Regions from separate parts of the Homo sapiens genome. Here regions 2 and 3 are each linked to region 1. The links come from fine-mapping of genetic effects on gene expression. A gene starts in region 1. Each other region holds a variant in brackets. All regions are shown on one strand. Distances are between the middles of the regions.

Region 1 (4,228 bases):
TGCATTTGGATTTAAATGTTCAGGACTCCATTGTTGCCAGATTTCCTGTCTCAAGACTATCAATTCATTTGAATAATCAGCAAAATCATCAGCCTCCTTTCAGCCTCTAAACTGGATTTAAAAGATTGACGTTTCTTAAAACTCAAATCGAGTCGGGCTGCAACTGCATGCCCAGAGGGACCTGAATCATACACACACTGGATAATGAAATACACTTAGATTTTATTAGTGGGTAATTCATGCTCAGAATCTTGGAACAATAATATAATTAAATAAACAACTGGGAGAAGGAACCAGATAAGTCAGGAGGTAAAATTATTTAGCTAAAGTTAGAATGGAAGTAAGGAACTGCATTTCAAAATTTTGAATTCAGCCATTAACTTGTGGAAAGAGAAGAGATAGAGAACCAAGTACCAGGACTGGCAAGGAAGGAGGGCAAGAGTCTTTCAGCAGTAATGTCATCAATGCAGTAGGCAGAAAGGTTGTTGTTGTATGTGTGTTTCTTGTGTCAGGAATCACAGAAAGAGGTGCATCCAATTCAGGGTGTGTGAATGCATAAAGATCATCAACACTTTCTCATTAATGTCCCTTAAAAGTTAATCACTTTAACCCCACAATTTTCTCTCACTTCACACAAAATCAAATAAAACGATATATATTTTTCTTTTACAAAAGGCAGTGAAAAAGCGGTTAAAGCATGGATTAAATTGAAATTTTTCAGTGAGCCTTTGACATTCAAGAATAACTCAGTCACTTCATTCTACTGATTAAGTATTGCTTTTCTTTCATGGAGATAAAATAATTTCTCATACTCAAGCAACCTTCTTGATCCTCATTTCTAGAGGATTCTAGAAAACAGCAAATGGAGCACACTGAGCCTGCAACTTTGGGGAGTGGCAGGACAGAGTGGAAGGGGAGAGGCTTGTAGCTGTCGTTTCAGGACCCTTCAAAAAAGAGCTCTAAAAGAAGTGGTGGGAGCTTTAACACATTGCAGAGTACTGTCTCCCAGGCTGTTCACCCTTCTGAAGGGGGGTTCCTGAAGGGCAAAGGCTGGTCTGATTACATGCATCTTTCCAGAGCCTCTCACCAGGCCTGGCGCCAGTGGAGGCTCAATAAATGTTTGTGGAAAGATGGGGTGGAGAGATAAAGCATAATATAAATATGAATGGGTTTCTTCAGCAGAACTTGAGACAATGGGAAATGGGAGACCCTGGTTTATAGGTGGAAATTCCCAAGAAATGAGAAAAAAAAAATCAAGGCAAAATAATGCAGTTGATAGAGCAAATATTTCCTCCTCTACATCAACTTTTGGTTAGCTTCACGGGCGTGTGCACGCCCAGGGATAGGGAGACAACTTTAGGACTATATAAGTATTGCCCAAAATGGGATTCTTGTGTTTCAGAGACTAACTTCAAGGGGAGGGCGCCATGGACAGAGCTGTAAAGATCTTTCCCGCTTTCTATGAAGAGGGCGGGCAGAGCGTCAGCCCCTAGAAAACTACATTTCCCAGAATGCCATACGCAGGCGGGAGAGGGCATGAACAGAGCCTTGGCGCGATGCTCCTTGGGAGGTGTAGTTTCCACGCGTCCAGCTCGAACGCTGATGCCCCAGCGCGGTGGTAAAATGAGCCCACGTGATCGGAAAAGCAGCGGTTTCCCTTTGAGCCGGAACAGGATGACTGGGTTGACCGATGCTGGGCAGCTGAGCGGACCAATCGGCCCCCTAGACTGAGACGTTGGCGTTTGAAATCAGCCAATGGCAGGTCTACACTGGAGCTTCCTCTCCGCCTCCTTCGCCTAGCCTGCGAGTGTTCTGAGGGAAGCAAGGAGGCGGCGGCGGCCGCAGCGAGTGGCGAGTAGTGGAAACGTTGCTTCTGAGGGGAGCCCAAGGTAGGGAGGCGAGGCGACGGTGTGCGGGAGCGGGCTCTCCAGGGACTTCCCGGGTCCGCAACTGGCAGGGCCGTTCGATTCGCAGGGGATCCCGTTTCGTTTCTGTTGTTTTCCCTTTATTTTTAGGAGTGCCCGGGGCGACGGGACCCCGGGAGAGGGGAAAGGGAACAGTCTGGGGTCCGGGCATCGCTGTGGGCCGGGCTGGGTTTAGGGGGACGGCGGTGCGGGCTGGGCCGGTTTGGGCGCGGCGGGGGCCGGATGATGGGGCGAGTCCGGACCTTGGCGGGCGAGTGCTCGGCGCAGGCGCAAGCGCAGAGTCTCCTCGCGGTCGTCCTCTCGGCCCCTCCCTCTGGGGGGACCCCCAGTGCCAGGCTGTCAGTGCGCAGCCCCAGCCCGCGGGACCCCTGGGGACTCTGGGCGCCTGTTCTGCAGATGACCGGTTCTAACGAGTTCAAGCTGAACCAGCCACCCGAGGATGGCATCTCCTCCGTGAAGTTCAGCCCCAACACCTCCCAGTTCCTGCTTGTCTCCTCCTGGGACACGTCCGTGCGTCTCTACGATGTGCCGGCCAACTCCATGCGGCTCAAGTACCAGCACACCGGCGCCGTCCTGGACTGCGCCTTCTACGTAGGTGCCCTCCCGCCCTGCTCCTGCCCTCTTACTGTGTTAACGATTCTCCACGTGAGGAGCGTTTCTTTTCCAGTGTTGGGTAGAGGCGTCTGTCGGTGGGGTTATTTGGACAGTTCTTTAGCTTTTCAGGAGCATCTGCCTTGAACCTGTACCGTTTTGGGTTGGAGACATGCAGACATTGGAAACTCCGTCTCCCCTTTTCTGTTACACGCTTGTGGAGTAACTCTAAACTTTCTGAAAATACGATCATTATATTTGCAACAATACTGTTTTGGCTGCCGTATTGAAAGGAACCGTTTAGGGGAAATGTATGTTTACCCTCAGCTAGCGTGTTGGCTAGGATAAAGCAGCCCTCCTTTAATTTCCAGACACAGGAGTTTAGTGACCACTTGCTTTTTTATGCTGTTTTTTGGTTTGTTTACCATGAATAGTTGAGCCCAGTGCATATCCCGAGCATAAACTGAACACTTGCTTGTAGAAATAAGAATGTTGAAACCCTTTCAAAAGTTCTAGTTTTTAAACGGTTCAAAACTATTTTATAGGATCCAACGCATGCCTGGAGTGGAGGACTAGATCATCAATTGAAAATGCATGATTTGAACACTGATCAAGGTAATGTGACCATATCTTTACCAGTTTGTTTTCTTGGCTAGTGTTCTTAAGTATAAATGTTTATGTAGGAAGAGTGGTTCCTAAATTGCTTAGTTACTAAGTTGCTTAAGTACAGGTGGCTTGAATTTAGGATTTTTTTAATTTAAATGATAACCATTAAGTTACTGATTACAGAATATTATGCATGTATTTTTGCAGTAAAGCCAGTTATGGTCGCCATTGTCAGTGTTTACATAAATTGACACTCAAGTATTTGGCCTTTATTTTGTCCTTAGAAGTGGGCTGGATCCCAGACTGGCCAGCGTTTCATTAGGATTTTCCACTACAATGCTGATGTTTTGAGAGTTCAGTTTTTAGAAGCTAATTTAGTTTTCAGAAGCTAAAGGTAGATTTAAAACCTGACAAAAAATAGGCAATCATGTCTATATTAATTGTGTTTGTTTTAGGTATTTAGCAAAATATGTTTCCGTTGCATTTTTTGAATGAGTAACTAGATGATACATTTCCTTTCGGTTAAGTAATTTCTTAGAGATCCAGATATGAAATGACTTACTCAAATTTTTTTGGTGACATTGGCACAGTGTTAGAGATTGGACTGGAGCCCAAATGCATAGAGCTCTCTAGCTGAACATTTGTTTGCATGTGTATTCATCAGACATAGGTATTCTAAGGAGATAGGAGGGTACAGAGATATGACTAGAGAGAAGATGAGTTGAGCAACAGGAGAATGGATGGAGGATGGCCACATTTTGTCAAAAAACTAAGCACCCAATTAGAAGAGGCTTTTGCATGAAAGCTACTTCTTCTGTAACTTATACTGCAGGTATTGGGTTTTGTTTGCCAGTAGCTTACCCTGTGTAATAAGTAAGCTTGTAAGTCTAGGTTCTATTTGTTCAGAAACTTGTAGGGGTAGGGAGAAACACTGAAAAGCAAACGTCTCGATTTTCAGTGTTACATAGAGAATTAGCTGTTTATTCTATGAAAGTCACTGCCAAACTTCATGAAATCCTTTCTTTTTCTTTCTTGTTTTTTTTTTTGAGCTAGAGTCTCACTCTGTTGACCAGGCTGGAGTGCAGTGGTGTGATCTTGGCTCACCA
Region 2 (4,228 bases), 370 kb after region 1:
CCATGCGGGGCCCCGGACACCATAAAATGTGTGGTCTCTGTCAAGTGAACTGTGGCAGAACCAAGAACTTTGCTGCCTGCGTCTCTTCACTGAATGGCATTACTCCCTGCTCCACAGGCCCCTGAAAGCCCCCAGGCCTGCTAAGGGTAGCTTTGCATGGACAGGCACAGAGGGAGACACGTCACCCTCCCTGTGTCTTCTGTGCAAGGGCCCAGGTTGCCAGGCCTGAGCTGGAAACTGAGGCTCTGTAGAGAGCATGACCCAGACTTTGTCTCAAGGGACCTGAATTCTCAACAGAGGAGCCTGATGGGTAAACAAGATAAGGTCTTAAAATTTGCAACTCTTCTGTGTGGCAGGTATTTTCTTCCCATTTTATTTCTTCATCTACTCTTTCAATCAATATTTATTAGGCACCATTATGTGACACATGCTGGGCTGAATCCCAGGGATGGAGCCTCCTTCTTACCTCCCCTGTGCTCCAGCTCCACACCAAGTGCATATCTTCTGAGCCTGGCAAGCCCTCCTCTCTCCAGGCCTTCACAGCCACTGACTCCTTTTATCGGACCACTTTTTGTCCTCCCCACCACACTTCCCCACTTGGCAATCTGCGAATCACTTTTTTGAGACCTATCTTGAAAATCCCTTCTTGTGGACTATGGTGGATGTCCTGGCAGAAGCATGCTCCCTGGCTGTCTCTCTTCTCTGAATGACATTACCCCCTGCAAGATCAAGCACTCACGGTGTTGTTTTGTGATTCTTTACTTGTTTTTTATTTTATTTTATTTTTTTGAGACGGAGTCTCGCTGTGTTGCTCAGGCTGGAGTGCAGTGGTGCTATCTCGGCTCACTGCAAGCTCCACCTCCTGGGTTCACGCCATTCTCCTGCCTCAGCCTCCTGAGTAGCTGGGACTACAGGACCCGCCACCACGCCCAGCTAATTTTTTTGTATTTTTAGTAGAGACGGGGTTTCACCATGTTAGCTAGTATGGTCTCTATCTCCTGACCTCATGATCCTCCCGTCTCAGGCTCCCAAAGTGGATTCTTTACTTATAAACCTGCCTCCCACTACGAGCCTGTGATGGCTGATACTGCACCTTGAGCCATCTTTGTATTCCCAACACTCAGAACAGAGCCGTGCATTCAGGAGTTTCTTTATCTATGTGACGGTTGAATTGAATATCCTACTGCACACCAGAACCCTAAACCCTCACCTCCTTCTGCTCCAGTGTGCAACCATATGCAAATTCAGTGTGTCAATGAGATAGACATCTGCTTAAAAGTAAGATGAATGTGTGTCAGTAGGGGGCAATAAAAGTGGGGGATTGAGAAAGAAAGAGAACCCAGAGCCAAAGACCCCACAAAACCCAGGCCCCGTGACTCTCGAGTACCTCAAATCCATGGAAGCAAAAGGTTCTGAGGGCCTCCTGGCTCTACACTTCCTGCACAGCTGAAGCCAGCTGGCGAGGTGGCAGCTCTCTCTCACCTGTCAGAATTTCAGAACCTCATTATGACAAGCACCACTTCCACCCCACGTGCTCCTGGTGTCTGCTGGAACTGCTCACTGACAGTGCTTAGGTCCAGAAGAACTCGAAAATGCTTAATTGGTTAAACGAACGAGTGACTGATTAAGGAATAAAATCCAACCTGAAACAGTTGACAAAAGTAAAATGATGACTCTGTCATGTAATGATATAGGAAGACTAATGCACAGACATCTGTGGAGCTCCAGGATTTCAGGAATGGGTCAAGCCATAGACGCCACCAAGCTCTCATTTTAAGGCCATGGAATCTAAAGTCCGGGGAGGTTGTGACATTTCCCCAAAACACATAAAGCTAAGTTCATTCATGTATTTAATATTTGTTGAAGGTCTGTTATGACCAGGTACCCTTTTGCATATTTGGCATGCAACAGTGAATAAAACAGACAAAAATCCAGGTTCTCATGGAGCTTCCATTCCAGCTGGGAGAGAGAGACCATCAACAATAAACATAGTAAGCCACATAGCATGTTAGGAGGTGATCAGTGTAGTGGGGAAAAAGTAGACCAAGGTAAGGGGCCTAGGAATGTGTTGTTGGGGTCGAGATTACATATTGTAATTGGCAAAGAGTGGCAGTTTAAAAAGACAGAGTAGGATAAAGATTTTTAAAGGAAGTGAGAGAATATGGA[G/GT]TTTTTTTACCTTGCAGGCATATTATGAATATTCAGTGAAACAACGTGTGTGCTCACCAGGCAGGAAGAGCTCAGCAAATGGTGGCTGGTCTGGAAATTATTGTCATCACTATAATCCTCATCGACATCCTCAGCCTTATTGTCATCATCATCAACCTCATCAGTGTCATCATCAGCCTCATCAACGTCATCATCAGCCTCATCACTGTCATCATCAGCCCTTTGTCATCATCATCATCCACCTTGCTGTTCTCTTCCTTGTTGACATCATTATCCTCATCCTCCTCATCACCATCAACAGCATTATTTTTATTTTTTATTCTTCCACCTGTAAGAGTTTCTTTTCCTCCCTCTTATTGTTTTCCTCTTGGGATGACTAGTGGTGAAGGAAGTGTCAGAGGCAATGACCTCACAGCTGTCGTTGCCATGGGTGACACCTCCCAGAAAGAGCTTATTGGAACTTTCAGTCCAGGGGAGTTTCTGCTGTTCCAGGATGGAGGAAATGTTCAAGAACTGTGGAGCATCTGAGATTTTTTTCCTACTTTTGATGTCCACCTAGTCAAAGTTCAGGTAGGCTTATTGTCTATTATAAAAGCTCCAGGTTCCCAAAGCTTGGCGAAATCCCGTCTCTACAAAAAAATACAAAAATTAGCCAGGGTTGGTGGTGGCTTGCACCTGTAGTCCCAGGTACTCAGGAGGTTGAAGTGGGAAGATCGCTTGAGGCTGGGAGGTGGTGGTTGTGTTGAGCCAAGATCTCACCACTGCACTCCAGCCTGGGTGACAGAGTGAGACCTTGCCTCAAAAACAAACAAACAAAAAACCAAAGATTTTTTTAAAAAAAGAATTAGCAAAAAAGTGTGTGACAGAATCATTATTCATTTGGTGTTTATTGGTTATTTAGGGACTCTGAGGGTAAGAATCCCGGCTCATCACTTAGGAACTGCTGTGTTTCTGCCATCTCAGGGAGTCTGTTTAGTTCTCAGCTCTAGTAGTCTTGGCTTTGATCCCTAGCTGTTCCACTTTTCCAAGGGTGTAACTAGGCAATTTGCTTTGCCTACTTCCTTATCCTTTTTTAAATTATTATTATTATTATTGTTATTATTTTGAAATGGGGTCTCACTTTGTCACCCAGGCTGGAGTGCAGTGGTGCGATCGCAGCTCACTACAATGTCTGCCTCCTGAGTTCAAGTGATTCTCCTGCCTCAGCCTCCCAAGTAGCTGGGACTACAGGTGCACAGTACCATGCCAGGCTAATTTTTGTATTTTTAGTAGAAACAGGGTTTCACTGTGTTGGCCAGGCTGATCTCAAACTCCTGATCTCAAGTGATCCGCCTGCCTCAGCCTCCCAAAGTGCTGGGATTACAGGCATGAGTGACCGTGCCCAGCCTCTTTATCCTTAAAATGGGACTCACGATGGTATTCACTTTAGAAGGCTACTAGGAGGACCAAATGATATAATGTCTCAACAGTGCTTAGCTCCATGCCTGGCACATGGCAAGGACTTGGTTGATGATGGTAAAGATGGTGGGGATGATGATTTTCCACAAGGAAAAACATGAGTTACAGGAAACCAGCTGGAGATTGGTGGCTTCACCAGGTAATAAGCTGTGATTGGGTCCTCTGATGCCAGAGATGGAGATGGAGAGATTTTTTTATTCTTCAATGTAGTGGTCACATTGGGCCTTTAGGATTGAACTCTGTTTCAGAATTTAATATCCCAGGATTTGTTTACATATGTCTTCAGAAATCATGTCACACTCAAAGCCTCAATGAGAACTCTTTTTTCTAGAAATCTCTATTAAAACCCCAAAGTTGAATCAGGGTATTATATAGTCCTTAGATATCACATTGATATGTGTCCTACTAAGGATTAAATATGTCATGCAGACCCCAGTGTAGACATATAGTTTCATAAACCATATACCCAGAAACCCTAAGAAAATAGAGATTCTACTTGTGTGAAAAGTCCACTCAACATGCTAAATATTTCCTGTGTGTCTGTCATGAGCCAGGCAATGAATGTGATGGGCAGTACAGTGGATCCCCAGTCTGCATGATGCAG
Region 3 (4,228 bases), 510 kb before region 1:
GGAGGTGGGGTGAAGAAAGATGGGGTGGGTAGAGGTGGGGTGAAGAAAGGTGGAGCGAGGTTTTCCCCAGATCCGAAGGCTCAGTGCTGGGTCAAAATGTCAAAGGTAAACAGGTGCTAACGTCTAAAGCCTCACCTGCAACTCTAAGCCAAACATTAGTAACAGCAGAGCTTTCTCTAGGTGGAATTTCTGAGCCTTTTTTTTTTTTTTTTTGAGACAGTGTCTTGCTTTGTTGCCCAGGCTTGAGTGCAGTGACACAATCTCAACTCACTGCAACCTCCGTCTCCTGGGTTCAAGCGATTCTTCTGCCTCAGCCTCCCTAGTAGCTAAGATTACAGACAGGCTAGACCATGCCCAGCTAAGTTTTGTATTTTTAGTAGAGACGGGGTTTCATCATGTTGGCCAGGCTGGTCTCAAACTCCTGACTTCAAGTGATCTGCCTGCCTAGGCCTCCCAAAGTGCCGGGATTACAGGTGTGAGCCACTGTACCCGGCCTCTTTTCTGACCTTTTATAAGCTCGCTTCTTAGGCCTGTAGCATAAATCTCAGCCTTTCCTTAGGGTAGAGCCAGCTGAATAAAGAACCTTTTTCAGAGTAAGTGTCAATTTGGCCACTGTTGCCTTCGTTTCTCCTAAGAACTAGATCCTTTCAAATTAAGCAGACAGGTGGGGTGGTTGTCATACAGAATGAGAAGGGGCAACTCGTGTGTCTTCCCAGTGTCCTTGGAGTGTTGGTTCTTCCCAAAGCAGGATATGCAGGATGCAGCCTGGAGAAAGACAAGAATGCTAAATGCATTGTAAGTTTCAGTGGCTGTGATTGAAAATTAAAGATGATTGCCTCCATTTCTCTAGGGATCTGCCTCTTTTGGTTTTTGACACTTCATCTCCAGAACTATGGGCTGGGGCGGTTCAGGGAAAGAAGCAAACTCCTTAGGGCCCTTAGGAAGGGAGTCCTGTTTGCATGAGGTCTCCAGAGAGAAGGAGATTGACAGGTGACCCAAGGAGCTCAGAAGAAACAAAGGGATGAGCTGGGTTCCAAGGAAGCAGTACATTTGCCTAGAAAATCAGAGAGATATCAGGCTCAGGGCTCCTAGGTCAGGCTTGGCAGGAATGGGAGCTTTTGTGTACTGCCCTGGCAATGCCAGTGTTTGCCCCATGAAGCCAATCTCAGGACCCCTGTCCCAAGAGGGGACAGCTAAGACAGCCTAACTCTGGATGTGTGAGTTGAGCTGCATGAGACCCCAGCAGGGCAATGGCTACAGGGGAAACCCCAGGACAAGGGGACAGAGAATTCCAGCAGAGACTTGGCCATAGCTGCCAGCTCTGACTAGGGCTGCCCAAGAGCTGCCCACCACCGGCAGCTGTGGTGAGACGCCATGAGCCTCCGTGGGATTCAGAGTGCGTCCTGAGCCCTACCAGGAGTCAGAGGAGCTAGGGGGCCCCAGGGACTGTCTCTTGTTGGTTTCCATTCTCCTTGCCATCACCCCCAACACTCACCCTTAACCTCCCAGGCTGGGGCAGTTAAGGAAAGCCTTAAGGGTTCCCCTGTGACCATGAGTCTGCCCTGAAAAGCAATGTCAATGCAGTGGAATGCAGGCACCAGCCCAGGACTGGATCTGAGCAGATGCAGAAGCAGCAGGAAGCTGGAGTGGTGTGCGGGTTTGAGGTACACATCAATCAGAGTAACAAAGTGGCAAGTCAGACATCCGAGAATTCAAAAAAGTTCAGAGGCTGGGAACCCAACATGGAATCCCAACTCCATCCATTCATTCGTTCGTTCATTCATTCATTCATTCATTCATTCGTTCATTCACTCATTCATGAATGTCTAAGTTGTACCCTGTGCTTGAGAAGGAGCAGTGGAGGCTGTGGGTCCCTGCTGTGAGGATGAGGGGGACCCTGGGGCTGGGGGCTCAGCAGGCTTGCCCTGAGTGGTCCCCATGAGCGCCAGCCCCAAGCCAGGCTCTGTACTTGAACCTGTGGATACAAAGAGGGGTCATGCAGGGGTCACCATTATAAGGGGAAATTTATTTCCACAGGAAACATTTCCACCTCCTGAAGTGTCCCCTCTCCTTAAAAATAGCCCCAGTAGCCAGTGCTTCTTCACAGATAACCACCACAGTGTTAGCCACTTGGCAGCCTCTCAAGGAAGGAGGTAATGGCCCCTTTATCAGCAGGGCCCAGCCAGGAGAGTGGCTAGTAGGGACAGATGAGTTTGGTAGCAAGAGGCAGTGAGGTCCAGGTGAAAGGTAGAGCAGAAGACAGGGCCACCGGTGACAGGGGCTCTGGACTAAAGCTGTCAGAGTGTGACTGAGGGTCCAGTCACAGGGGACACAGAGAAGTGGGCTTGCTTGGGAGC[A/G]GGGACCCATCCTCCCCATCCACACCACATCTCCACACTCAGGGAGGATTGGGCTGACACCAAGTGGCTGTGATTCCCAGCAACTGAGACTGTGGTTTGAGGCAAGGGTGCTCAACTCTACTGCACGTGAGAATGGCCCGGGGGCTTTTGAACCTGCTGCTGCCAGGCTGCACCCAAGCCAGTTAGATCAGAATCTAATCAGAGGGTAGGCCTGGACATTGGTGACCCACCAGACTCAGGTTGTTCCAAGATTGAGAGCTGCTGGTTTAGGACTCCTTAAATCCCTCTGAGAGAGTCCAGGTTGTGCCCTGTGCTTAAGAAGGAGCAGTGGAGACTATGGGTCCCTGCTGTGAGGATGAGGGGGACCCTGGTGCGGGGTTCTCAGCAGGCTTGCCCTGAGTGTTCCTGAAAGATCTACTTTCCAAGTCCCAAAAGACCGTATCAAAATCCCACTGACCTAAAGTGCCTCATTTCTGCTGATTCATATTTGCCCCAGCCTCTGCCATCCATAAGAACATGCCATGGAGGAAACACTGATTAAGCATCTTCTGCCAGCCTGGCACCTTGGACATAATCCTCTAATCCTCCATGTGGCCAGGTATTATTCTCACCTGGCAGGGATGGAAACTGAGGCTGAGAGAGGCAAGTCAGCACAGAACTGCACAGGATTCAGGTAGCGAGTGGCAGAGTTGGGGTCTGAGTCGGGGTCACTGACTTCTGGTCCTAGGTTCCCTCCTCCCTGTTCCATCATCCCCAAGGCACCAGGAGCCCAGGAGCCCAGGAGGCCTGGCCTCACATTGAGTTTGCACAGAGAACTGCATCAGACACACTCCTGTCTGCAGCTCCTATGTAAGATGTGGTACCAGGTGCAAAAGGAGGGCTTAAAGGAGGGTTGTGATGTCTACACCACACCCACACCCCAGCTGGCCCCACGGGACTACTCACTTGACCTGTGGTGGCTCCTCCAAGTTCTCCGCACCTCCAGTACCTGCTCATAGCCCGGTGATCCTGCTCCAGGCTCCACCTTCAGCAGAGTGACTGACAACCAGGGGCCAAGAGAACACAAGGCCGGGCCACATGGCACCTGTTTTGAGCTGTCTCCTGTGACCTTGTAGGGACAGAGGCTGCCCTCCAGCCCCTTCGAACCACAGCATCTCACCATCCTCCTGTTATCCCACCTGCCAGTGCCAGAGGGCGCTGCAGAACAACCTTGGAGCTATTTTATTCCTGAAGAACTTGTTACTGTGTTTACTGTGAGTGCCCGTGGTTGTCCATTACAGGAAGGGGTTCCACAGTTTTCAGCTCTAATAAAGGACTCCTGTGAAAGCCTGTCCTGGCTCCTTTCCATTACTTTAAGGGGACAGAATCCGATCTACTGTCTGACAACAGAGTGGATGGTAGCTCCCCTTTCTGCCTGGTCCCTACCACAGGCTGAAGGTGGCATTCAGCAGCCCCTTGAGATCTTGTCCCCTCCAGCCCTGTTCCTGGCATCCAAATCCCTGCAGTGGCTAGTAAGGGGTTCTGCCCTGGGCAGGGGCTCTATCCTCTGCAGGTTTGATGGCACCTGAATGGCTTCTGGTGTGTGGGAATCAGGGACAGCCCCAGCCAATGGTCGTTTCCTGTAGGGGATGAAACTTTGACCTCAGCATCTCTTCCCATTGCCTGTGTTGGCTGGAGTACTTAGTGTCCCGAGTGCTTGGCAAGGCCACTCAGGTGTGCACTGACTGGAGGGAGAAGGTCCTCTCGGGAAACCTGTGTCTGTGAAATGCTGCATTTTCAGAAATCATACAAGCTGGATGTTATGTGGCCATTATTAAAAATTAAATTGTAGAGTCTTACAATTAAATAAATATTATATTAAAAATAAAAAT

Direction of the effects. Positions count from the first base shown, and alleles are read on the strand shown. Sizes are in standard deviations (SD) of each study's normalised expression. Not every link is listed here.
As copies of G replace A in region 3, the expression in esophagus mucosa of the gene that starts at base 1,806 in region 1 goes down (small effect, 0.21 SD a copy in GTEx).

Evidence for each region. PIP is the estimated chance that this variant, and not a neighbour inherited with it, causes the effect.
Region 2: its variant is fine-mapped to the expression of BUB3 in monocytes after interferon gamma (Fairfax 2014, PIP 0.95).
Region 3: its variant is fine-mapped to the expression of BUB3 in esophagus mucosa (GTEx, PIP above 0.99).

The regions. Positions count from the first base shown.
Region 1 is chr10:123,152,597-123,156,824 of GRCh38, forward strand. BUB3 (BUB3 mitotic checkpoint protein) reads left to right here and starts at 1,806. Exons shown (of 8, transcript NM_004725.4): 1 at 1,806-1,889; 2 at 2,322-2,516; 3 at 3,062-3,131. The coding sequence starts at 2,322. RefSeq lists enhancers at 1,477-1,771, 1,491-1,660, 1,497-1,656, 2,387-2,456 and a cis regulatory region at 1,576.
Region 2 is chr10:123,521,669-123,525,896 of GRCh38, forward strand. It overlaps LINC02641 (long intergenic non-protein coding RNA 2641), which reads left to right. Exons shown (of 12, transcript XR_007062326.1): 9 at 2,184-2,736. Among named protein-coding and RNA genes, the nearest start is that of GPR26, 140 kb to the right of the region's middle. The variant G/GT (reference allele first, on the strand shown) is at 2,167.
Region 3 is chr10:122,645,358-122,649,585 of GRCh38, forward strand. No RefSeq gene overlaps it. Among named protein-coding and RNA genes, the nearest start is that of SPADH, 25 kb to the right of the region's middle. RefSeq lists an enhancer at 1,976-2,270. The variant A/G (reference allele first, on the strand shown) is at 2,358.